3 linked regions of the Homo sapiens genome follow. The protein of the gene in region 2 interacts with the protein of the main gene of each other region in a biochemical or structural test. Each region holds a gene or a part of one and is shown on either strand. Other genes may lie near its edges. The genes, in order: PTPN11, PECAM1 and PTPN6.

Region 1 (3,748 bases), on a different chromosome or scaffold from region 2:
CATTTACATGATTCACATCAAAATGATGACATCCTAAAACGTATTCCTTTTAAAGGATAGATTTATCAATAAAATATTACATATCTTTTAATACTCTGGTACAATACTTCATATACTGCAGGAAAATTAATTGTAGGTCTAGTCATCAGCTTAATCAGGGATCCTTTTCCCATTAGCTTTTATTAATAAAAGAATCACAATTAGGTCATAAATAAACAGGCAAATTATTAATTACATGATTTGAGGCTTAGGATGAAAACTTGTCAAAATTAGTTTGATATACAGCAAAGTTATACAACACACTAAAACCAACTGTTCAATAGTTTTTGCCTTGTGTGAACTGCCCATAGTGAAAAAGGAACAAATTTTTAGTGATGAAAGATACAATAAACTATATTTTGGAACTTTTCAAGAGGAAGAAGGAAAAAAGATTTCAACAAAATTAAGGGCAAATACAGATCCTAACAAAGGCATCCTGACATCAGGGAGGCCATGTGCTTGCTATGTGTGAAAGTTGATCCCCCAACAACATACAGAAAACAAAAGCTGCACTGGCTTTGTAGTTATGTCTATAGTCTAAGTTTCCCTTATGGATACTAAGCTACAACAAAACACTTGACAATTGCAAACCTTTCCACATCCCCCTGAATTAAAAATAACTCAAGATGTTATTAGTTCTTAAAATCCCCAATAAAATAACCTCTAAAAATAATCTTGACCATTTTCCTGGCTGTTTCCCCGAAGCAACTTGGCTCTTTAAAGAATGCACACACACCAAGAAAGTCCTACCCGTGTCTCCTCATCCCCATTTAGCCACATTTGAAAAGACCTTGGTTTCAGTGGGAGAGATGACCATAAGTTTCAGAAGGGCCACACACTGGACATGAAGCGCCTTTTAGTTTTTTTTAAAAAAAGTTATTAAGACTGTGAAATTTGGCTTTTTTTTTAAACTCCAATACCTAATGTGCCAGATAATTCTTTCACCCCAAAATATAAAATCCTATGCTTATAATTTTAAAATCCTCAGTGAGCTATGGAATATTGTGCATATTTAATACCCACCAGCAACCTAGAAGTAGATGGCATCCATGTGTCTGTCACACCGACTTTCCAAACAACCTCATTCACCCATTACTGACTGCTCTGGCCCTGGGCGCTCTGACTTCCTCAGAAACCACCTCTTTGGAACTTTCCTTTCCACAACTTTTTTTTTAAAACTTCACCTCGAGCTTTCTCCATCATCCCAGCCTCTCTGCCTGATTCCATCTCATGTAAAGTAAACTCGTCTGAGAACCTGCGATCACCTTTTACCAAGCACATGATAAGCCGTAGCAACCTAGGGACTATGATAACTCTGGCCTTGGCCTAAGTTTACATAAGAACATGATAGTTTGCTGACCTCGTGGAGGGAAATCTAAATGAAATCAATATCTTATAACAAAACTAGCCAAGATCAGGTATTTCCATTCTGAGTATAAAAGCAACTGATCTTAAGCAACAGGCAGAGATGTTAATGCAGAAGATATATTTGTACAATCAAACTCTTGTGTGCTGGTGAAAGACTTTACCCCCAAAGTCAAGTCAAGTCAAGACAAAACCAAAGCAAAATGGAGAATGAGTCGATGTAACAATGCGATAAAAAGAACAGCATTCAAGCTTCTTGCTGCAAATACTGAACTGGAATCTTTTTCTTTACAAGTTTGACTAGAAGACAGCAGTGACACTTCCCTAATAAGGGAATACCTTCAGGCCACACCTGTGTTCTGAAGCAATTCAAAGTTCAAGGAATATTGGGGGGTGGAGGTGGGGGCTGATATACATTTTGTCAGTGAGAATGGCAGCCAAACTACCCCAAAGTCTCAAGGGACTGAGAGACCTCAGAAAGGAACTACCACCAGGGCTGGATCTAGGCCTTCCTTTCAGAAGCCAAAGTCAGAAGAATCCAAGGAGGCCACAACTTCATGGCAAAGATGCCATAGCATTATTACCATCACAAAAGTCAACCAATGATATTTTCATTGAAATATCCGCACTGGATGATTCAACATATGAGGCAAAGAGGGATGTCTTTGGAGAAGGCACTTAATGTAGAACATTAGCAAATCTTACTGGTTGGCTACAACAAAAATGAGCTCATTCAACCTGGCTGGAGGCCTGTTAGGGCTGTTCCTTCTCACTGTGGCCTGACTAAAACCCAGTGGCATTAAGAAAGAGTCACGTTTCCCAAGTCTGGGGATGCCCCAGTGGGGTGGTGCTGCTCTCAAAAGCCCTGTGTCCCTAAACACATCCATCCTCACAAGATCAGTTTCCCCAAGTGCTGGTTCCAAAAATAGGCTCAGGGCTAGCAGAAATCATTCAGGAAGCTTCTTGAAGGCCCTCTCTTTATTTCTTAGTCTGACTTTCAGCTTGTCCCAGCTACTGTAAGCAGCTTCGGCTTCCCAAGGTCACTAGCAACTTCTGCTTTTGCTAATATCCTTGGTTTTCCATGGCACTGGTTGTGACCGTCTGTTAGACTAGTGGCCCCCCACTTAACTGCACCTCTACTTCACACCCTTTTCTTGAATCTGAGCTGGGCTTGTGACTTGTTTAGTAAGTAGAGGGCATACCCCAGCTTTCTTCTGATTAGAAAAAACCATCATCATCATCATCATCATCATCATCATCATCATCATCATCATCAATAGAGGGAAGTAGAAGGGACACTGTGACAATTCTGGACTTAAGTTTTCAGAAGGCCTGGCCATTTCTGCTTTTGAGCTCTTGGGAGCTCTGAGCTGCATGTGAGAGGTCTAGCTACCCTGCCAGCCAGGCCACTGAAAGAGACTACACGAAGAAGGAGAGACTCAGGACTGCAGGCAGAGAGAGAAGCCCAGCCATCCCAGTCTCTCCGCCGACCTGCTGACCACATGAGTGGCCACCTGCAGGCTGGCAGAAGAACAGCCCAGCTGAGCCCAGCTCAGATTGACTAACAGTTGGGGGCAGGTTTTTTTAAGCCACTAAAGTTTTGGGATAAGTTTGTCAGCAACATTTGGCGACCAAAAACACTGGTCATTCATAGACGCCTTTTTTCTAAGTACAAGACAATTATTCAAATGCAAAGAAAATATGGCAAACGTTTTCCCACCACAAACTTCTCAGTCAACAGCCGAACTATAATTGGTCAACGGCTGGAAAAAAGAAAAAAAAAAAAGCCACACCTCTTACCTTAATTCATAAATATCCATGATTCTTTTTCTATGACTCTTTAATGCCAGTGCAAAGGTCAACTTCTGACAGTCTCAGGCACTGGCTTAATTCTCATTTGGCCAAAAATAGAAGCCATCAAAATGAATTATCCACTACTGGATACATGATGGTAAATGAGATTGTTCTCACTTTTCTAGGTCGTTGTTACTTAATTTTCCCAAATCATTTCTTCTCATCATCCCCAACAATGAGGAAAAAAAAAATTAAACTGGTTAAGGGTATAAAAATAAAAATAAAAAAGCCTATTACTAGAATTTGAATCCCCATAATCTGCAAAATACAGCGCACAATTTAACTGCTTCCTCAATTTCAAACAAATTCTATAAAATATAATGTTGTCTACATTGTAGAGATGATTTCTTCTTATCTGAGGAAATGAGTAATTGGGAAGCAGGTATTGTTGAGTTAAAATACAGTGGTCTTTAAATGGTTTCAAATTTTGCTTATCAAAAGGTAGTCAACCACATTGCAAGCCTTCCAAATCCAAATTCTGTCTTCACAT
Region 2 (3,748 bases):
CTGGGGTCCTGGGACAGCCTCGGCCCTTTCCCTTCCTTCCATCTCAGGCCTCTTTGTTCCCCTCCAGCCCGCACCTCACTGCAGCTGCCTCACCTCAGGAGGTGACGGCTGCTCCATCTTCACCTAGAAAACAGTCATCTGGAGGGAACTCCCTCAACTTCCCGCCTGGGCCTGGCTGCAGGCTTATCAGCCTCTCCACCCATCCTCTCGGTTTCCCTCCCGGCCTCGGAGGACACATGCACCCTGCTCCTCAGCTGATGGGGGCCAGCCAGGCACTTAGGCTGAGACCCTTCCTCACCCCCAGGACCCCACGCCTACGTGCATTCAAGTCCCTCTCCCCTACCACCACTTCTAGAATCTCTATTTCTGCTTCTGGCTCTGTTCTCTCAGTGAATGGGAACTCTTTTTTTAGGAAAAAGAAAAATCACAAGCAGACACCCACCCCCACCGTTTATCTGGTGTCCCCCTATCTGGCCTTTCTAGTTTCCTTTCTCAGTCGAACCTCTCTGAAAGTTAGTTTATAATCTGTGCCTACCCACCTCACCTCTCAGACACGCCTCGCCTCCCAGCAGCCTGGCCTCAGGCCCCACTTCTCCGGCTGTTGGGTCTCCTCTTGCTGAGGGGTCACCAAGGACCACCTGATGCCAAATGCAACGGACACTTCCAGCCCTCGGCTCCCTGTACCCCTTTCCTGCCTTTGACTTTTGATCGTGCCCCAAAGCCTCGCTCCTTGACCTTTTCCATCCTCTTCCCTGCTTTGTCTCCTCACTCTCTAACAAACCCTCTTCCTTCTCCCCCATGGCTGACTTTGGACTTACTTTGTCTTCTCCTGGAGTCTGAACCCTGTCCTGGTCTCTGCGGGCTCCTGGTCTTATCCTCCCTGGAGACCAGCTCCCCTCTCAACACCTCCACATTCCCCCCTCCTCCCCTAAGTTCACACTCCTCCCACCTTCACAGTCCAGCCCTGGCCTCTGCCCTGAGCCTCCAGTTAACACAGGCTGACCTTTGATGTCTCCTCCCAGTCCTCCTACTGGCCCCTCACACGCAGCTGCACCACCATCACTTTGTCTTCCTTCCTTATCTTTTTCTGTTTGTTTGTTTGTTTTTGTAGAGACTGGGGTCTCATTTTGTTGCCCAGGCTGGTCTCAAACTCCTGGGCTGAAGCCATCCTCCTGCCTCGGCCTCCGAAAGTGCTGGGATAACAGATATGAGCCACCACACCCAGCTGCGTGTGGCATTTTCTATTTTAGTTTGGTGGCACACACATCCTCCTGGGAATCTAATCCAGGAAGTTTATCTTCCATTCTTTCAACCCCATATCCAATCAAACAAAGTCTTTTTTTAAATTGTGGTAAAATACAAATAATATAACATTTATTATTAATGACATTTAGTACATTCACGGTGTTGTGCAACCATCACCATTGTCTAATTCTAGAACATATTCTTTCTTTTTCTTTTTTTTTTTTTTTTGACAGAGTCTCACTCTTGTTGCCCAGGCTGGAGTGCAGTGGTTGGATCTCAGCTCACTGCAACCTTCACCTCCCAGATTCAAGCAATTCTCCTGCCTCACCCTCCTGAGTAGCTGCAATTACAGGCACGAACCACCATGCCCGGCTAATTTTTGTATTTTTAGTAGAGACAAGGTTTTGCCATGTTGGCCAGGCTATTCTCAAACTCCTGACCTTAAGTGATCCACCTGTCTTGGCCTCCCGAAGTGCTGGGATTCATTCTAGAACATTTTCAACACCCCAGAAACAAGTCCTGTTGAGTCCACTCAGGAGATCCCCAGCCTATCCTTCCCTCATCCCCACTGCACCCGCCTAGCTCAGGCCTCATCAGCTTTCACCTGAACCACTTCCAAGCTGTTTACTGGCCTTGGGTGCTGTCACACCCCTCCTGACACCCTCAGGACAGGGCCCAGCTTGTCAGCACAGCAGGCCAGCCCTCCATTCTGGCACGACAGACCCAGCCACCTGGCCTCTCTAGCCCCACACTCTGGTTTCTGTAATGGGCCATGCCCAGAAGGCACGGATTTCTCACACCCTCGTGTCCTGGGACACGCTGTTCTCTTACCTGGAGTACCCCACTGCCTGTCCTTGGCCTGGCAGGCTCAGTTCAGTGGTCACTTCCTTCAGACTCCTTGACCTCTCCTGGGCAGCCCTTCCTCTTGGTGCTTACTGATATCACTGGAGTCCAGCTATGTGGGCCCCAGCAACCTTTGCTGTTTGGGACAGCAAGGATGATTTCTTACTTACTCTGTCAGCCCAGCACCTGGCACAGGTTCTCGACACATGTCTCATTGGATGGGAACTTGAACTGAACTTGGAGATGCTTGAGATTCGGGTAGGAAGATGGCTCAGCATGCTCTCTGATGAGCACAGAAGTTCATCAGGGACTCTATGCTTCGTGGCTCCCAGTAATTTTCCTGACGAGGGTGGGCAGCCCCTCCTTCTCCTGCACCCTCCACTTTCTCTCTGAGTCATTTCCAGGTTGAGGGCCAGGGGGCTGGCTGACTGATGGTGCCGCATGTTTCCAGGGAGCACCACCATCCACTGATGAGTGGCCTTGAGGTCAAGGTCCCACTGTTTTTAGCATGTTGGGGTTTGGCACTGTGGTCACTGGCTGTTCCGTGGTGACTTTCCAAATTTAGATCCTTCTCCGTCAACCTTCATCTCCCCGGGTTGAAAAGATCTGACCTCTTTAGGCTGTCCCACAGCCCCACCCTTCATCACAATAGTCCTGAAACTTTTTGGGTTCAGTAAGGAAATCTGTGGGCCTTCTCTCCAGAAAAAGCACACATTTGCACACAATTGGAGGTAGTTGATGAGCCTCCTAACACCCACCCATGCACCTCCCAGGGGCTGTGTCCCCCAGGTTGTGAACAGTCACTCTGTGTAAATAGTGAGACCTACAGGCAGTAATTCAGTTTGGCTGTGCTTGGCTGGTTTATTTAGAAAGATGATAATGTTTTCCATATTATCAAAACAAGAATCAGGCAGAGACTTTTGAAGTTTGGTTGCGTGGTATATTTGTTACCTATTGCTGCATAACAATTTACCTAAAACTTACTGGCTTAAGATAACACAGATTTATTATCCTGAAGTTTCTGAGGGTCAGGAATGCAGGAGTGGCTGAGTTGGGTGGTGCTGGCACCGGGTCTCATTAGATTGCAGATAAATTGTTGGTCAGGGTTGCGGTTATCTGAAGGCTTGACTGAGTCTGGGGAATCTGCTTCCAAGCTCACTCCTGTGGCTATGGGCTGGAGGCCTTAGTTCCTCATCCTGGGTACCTTCCACAGGGCTGCTTATGCTATGACTGCTGGCATTCCCCAGAATGAGGGATCCCAGACAGGAGAGAGAGTGATCAGGATAAAAGCTGCATTGTCTTTTATTACCTGATGGAGTATTTTGTTGGTTAATGTTAACGTGGGAGGTGACCACGTGTAAGTGTGATGAGCAGAGGGCAAGGACCATTGGGGGGGGCATCTTGAAGGGCTTCTATAGCAAGGGAGGTGGTGGTGGTTGTGGCGGTAAAAACTAGGTCACTGTTTTTGTTGTTTTGTCGATGATATTTGTGTTAAGATGAAGAGCTGAGACTCATATCTCAACAGAGTTTATAAAATGCTTTTCTTTTTTCCATCCTGCCCTCTCTTCTCCCTTGTCTGTTCGAGCTAGCCATGGGAATGTGGTGTTCCTGCCAGTGCATCCATTGAGTTCGTTTATTGTTAATTTATTTATTTTCTGAG
Region 3 (3,748 bases), on a different chromosome or scaffold from region 2:
TTTACTCTAAGGGGATCTGGCATTGAGATGCGGCTGCTGAAAGGAGCCATGGTGTCATGAGGAGCATTCAGAGCCCCCAGCCCCCAGCCCATGCCTTTGGGAGACCACAGGAGGAGTCGGGGAGGCCACAGGAAGGAAATGCCTGGAGTATTACTCTGTGCCCGGGACAGCGTGAGACACTTTACACAGGTGAACACTTCACATCGTGCTCTCAATGATCTCTGTTTGGGCCGGAGACCTATTTGACCCCACAGGACAGACCCATCCCCACGGGGCGGCTGGGACAAGGCATCAAGTGTCTTGGCAAGCATTCATCCCCATCTTCACCCCAGTGTCAGCTCCTCACTGTCCTAACATGTGCTGGGGTGAGGGGCAGACGGAGGAAGGCAGGCTCGATTCCAGAGGAAGAAGAGCTTTCTAACAACAGAGCTGGCCTGCACGACATGCTGGCCACCAGCAGTGGCCTCCCTGTCTCCAGTGGGACCTGGGTTGCAGCGGCCAGGGCTCCCGGAGTAGGGCGAGGCAGCTTTCTGTGGCTTCCTCGGGGTTAGGTGGAAAGGGTGGTAGGTTAGGCTCTGAGACACCAGGTCCCAGGACAGCAGGGAGGAGGGACATTGAGAGCCCCAGCTGGTGCAGGGAGGGGAGGGGATGGAGGGTAGGCAGCGCCGGCTGCCAGTCTCCCTGCCTCCCTGGCTGTTCAGGGTGGGAGCCGGCTCATCCCTGCTTGGGAATGGCGGGGGTGCGGAGCCCTCACCTCTCACTAGTGGGATCGGAGCAGTTCAGCGGGTACTTGAGGTGGATGATGGTGCCGTCGCGGTCCTGCAGGACACCCTGCTGCTGAGTGTAGTACTCCACCAGCTCTGTCAGAGTCGCAAACTTCTCCCCTCCATACAGGTCATAGAAATCCCCTGAGTTCTGGATCCGAATATGGGTCACCTGATCCCCCACCCTGCAGGGCACCAGGCGGTGAGGCCAGTCGGTGCAGGAGTAGAGGCAGGAGGGCAGGGATCGGCTGAGGTCCTGGGTGGGGGCACACATGGGCATGGGTGGGCACAGACAGGGATGGGGAGTGTGGGGGTTGGGGGCAAGGGAACAGACGGGGAGTCAGCACTGCCACGGGGAACCAGGAATGAGTGGTTCAGGGCCTGGATGGCACAAGAGAGTGGCCAAAATGCCCGGGGTTGCGGGGGGCCCACCTACCTGACGGAGAGCGAGAAGTCACCCTGGTTCTTGCGACTGGGCCGAGCCAGGAAGCTACCGTGGACACCTCGGCCCTTGAGCAGGGTCTCTGCATCCAGCCCACTGAGGTCTCGGTGAAACCACCTGGGCGGCCCAGGCAGGGCAGTGAGGAGGGGTCCCGTGGGCACCAGGCACCCTTGCCTCCTGTCTACCGTGGGTGGCAGGCCCTTACCTCACCATCCTGGGGGCTTCCGGAGAGGAAGGGGGCGCAGGGAATGAGGAGGTGCAGCTAGTCTGGGCAGGCAGAGAGCTCAGGGACTAAGCCTCAGATGCAGCTCCCAGTGCCGGGCCGCCTCACCACCCCCGGTGGTCCCAGTTCTGGGGCTGCCACTCCACTGGCCTGGGGCAGCCGGCAGGGCGGGGACAGGAAGAGGCGCGGCCGACCCCTTGGGGGAACTCACTTGTACTTCTCGTTTTAGAGCACAGCAAGGGAAGAGAAGCAGAGCAGGGTGGCACTGGGGGTGGGGACGGGGCCCACTTCCCACACGTCTGCAATCAAAGGCTCAGGAGCATGGCATTGCACATATGTGACAACACATGCAGTAAGGACACATGTGTGCCTTGCACACTCCAGGCCCAGATAATACTTCACGCATGCGAACCCAGACGGTCCCACGGCATCTCTCCCTCCTCCACCAGCTGCTTTTACGCAGCCCTCCCTGGCCCACGCTAATAACAATGATGGCGGTGACAACTGTCATCGAGTGAGTCCTGCTGGATGCCGGGCGCTGTGCTATAATGGCGTTCACATGCCTTGTCTGATTGGTTTCTCACCACAGCCCTATGAAACAGGGGCTATCTTTATCATTTTACAGACAAGGAACCTGAGGCTCAGGGAGTTTAAGGCATTGCCTGAGTCCATCAGTGAGTCAGCTGCAGTGCCAGGATTCAAACCCAGACAGTCCGGTTCCAAAGCCAGTGCTTTGAACTCCTATACACCAGCCCTCAGGGCTTCAAAGAACAGAGATTAAGAGCCTCCTTGTCCAAAGGGGCTGCCATGGGAGCAGGAGACTAATAGTTAAGACCTTGCCAATGCTTGCAAGAGAGAAGGGTGCCCTCCTCTAACCAACATATGCAGTTTGTCCATGCCACTGTGGCAGAGGGATGGACAACATGACCCTGAGCAGCCCTGTCAACATGGGTCCTTTCTAATTCTTGTCCCTAGGCCTCTGCCCTGCCCCAGCACTCCCACCAGGGGGCCTATCTCCTGGGGGGCTGGGGGACAAGGTCCTCACCATGGCTGATTTTCTCAGGGCTGGTTGATCTTAGAGGCCCTAAACACTAAGGTATATGATGCTGCCTACCTGTAATTCCAAATACAAACATCAACACCGCCAAACCAAAACGAGGAAAAGCAGCTCAACAGGGGATACATAAGAAACACATATTGGTGGCTTCCCCTAGGGAGGGAAACTGGGTGGCTGGAGGACAGGGCTGGGGGAGACACTTGGTTCTCTACATACCTTTTTGAATGTTATATGATGGGCATGCATTACCTTTATAAAAATAAATATGCTAACTGGGAACAATTTCTGGGAAACTTTTAGGGTACAGGGAAGGCTCTTTGTCTCTATCTGGATGCTGTTTGCATGGGTGTGTATAAACGTGAAGTTGGCCGGGCGCAGTGGCTCACGCCTGTAATCCCAGCACTTTGGGAGGCCAAGGCTGGCGGATCACGAGGTCAGGAGATCGAGACCAGCCTGGCCAACATAGTGAAACCCCAACTCTACTAAAAATACAAAGATTAGCCGGGTGTGGTGGCACATGCCTGTAATCCCAGCTTCTCAGGAGGTGGAGGTTGCAGTGAGCCGAGATCATGCCACCGCACTCCAGCCTGGGCAACAGAGTGAAACTCCGTCTCAAAAAAAAAAAAATTAAAAACCATACAGATCAAGATCAATGGTGATACAAGAAGATAGGCAGTCTGGAAGCGCAAACAAGGCAAAATAATCTGTAGAAAGTTCTGGAACTGCTCTGAGCCTCAGAATCCCCGCCTGACAAATGAGCTTAACAATATTTCCCAAATACTGATGTGAAAAGCTGGTAAGTGGCAGGGTTTCAGTGCTGCCAGCTTTTACATTATACTATTAATCCTCAGGCCAACCCTACTTAGTAGGTGTTATTCACCCAATTTTAGAAACAGAAACTAAGACTCAGAGATGTTAAGTAATTGCCCAAGGTCACAAGCTAGTGAGTAGGAAGGTGGGTAAAACACGGCTGTCAGACGCCGGAGCCTGGTGCCCTTTCCCCCAACAACCATACTGCAGCAGACAGCGTCGGGGGCAGATGGGATGGGCACTGCCACAGCCCATGATGGAAGGTGGAGGAAGAAGTGCTCCCCCAGAGGCAACATGGGTCAGGGCAAAGAGGTGGCACGCACAGAGTCCACATGGGCAGTGCCTGGCCGTGAGCAAGCCATGTGGCTGGAGCAAAGTTGTTCTGAGAGGTGGGGACCCTGCTGTAGAGGGTCATTCAAGGCCAGGCTGAGAAACCAAGGATGAAATCTGCA

The links.
Region 1: the proteins of PECAM1 (region 2) and PTPN11 form a complex in vitro, tested with the Homo sapiens proteins (4 studies listed by BioGRID, with this or other methods).
Region 3: the proteins of PECAM1 (region 2) and PTPN6 form a complex in vitro, tested with the Homo sapiens proteins (2 studies listed by BioGRID, with this or other methods).

Annotation. Positions count from the first base shown.
Region 1 is NC_000012.12:112,505,879-112,509,626, reverse strand, and holds part of PTPN11 (tyrosine-protein phosphatase non-receptor type 11), read right to left. Parts: 3' UTR 1-3,748. UniProt on the Homo sapiens protein: Acts downstream of various receptor and cytoplasmic protein tyrosine kinases to participate in the signal transduction from the cell surface to the nucleus. Positively regulates MAPK signal transduction pathway. Dephosphorylates GAB1, ARHGAP35 and EGFR.
Region 2 is NC_000017.11:64,384,129-64,387,876, reverse strand, and holds part of PECAM1 (platelet endothelial cell adhesion molecule precursor), read left to right. Parts: intron 1-3,748. UniProt on the Homo sapiens protein: Cell adhesion molecule which is required for leukocyte transendothelial migration (TEM) under most inflammatory conditions.
Region 3 is NC_000012.12:6,949,184-6,952,931, reverse strand, and holds the start of PTPN6 (tyrosine-protein phosphatase non-receptor type 6), read right to left. Parts: upstream 1,577-3,748; 5' UTR 1,420-1,576; coding exon 1,412-1,419; intron 1,324-1,411; coding exon 1,201-1,323; intron 950-1,200; coding exon 755-949; intron 1-754. UniProt on the Homo sapiens protein: Tyrosine phosphatase enzyme that plays important roles in controlling immune signaling pathways and fundamental physiological processes such as hematopoiesis.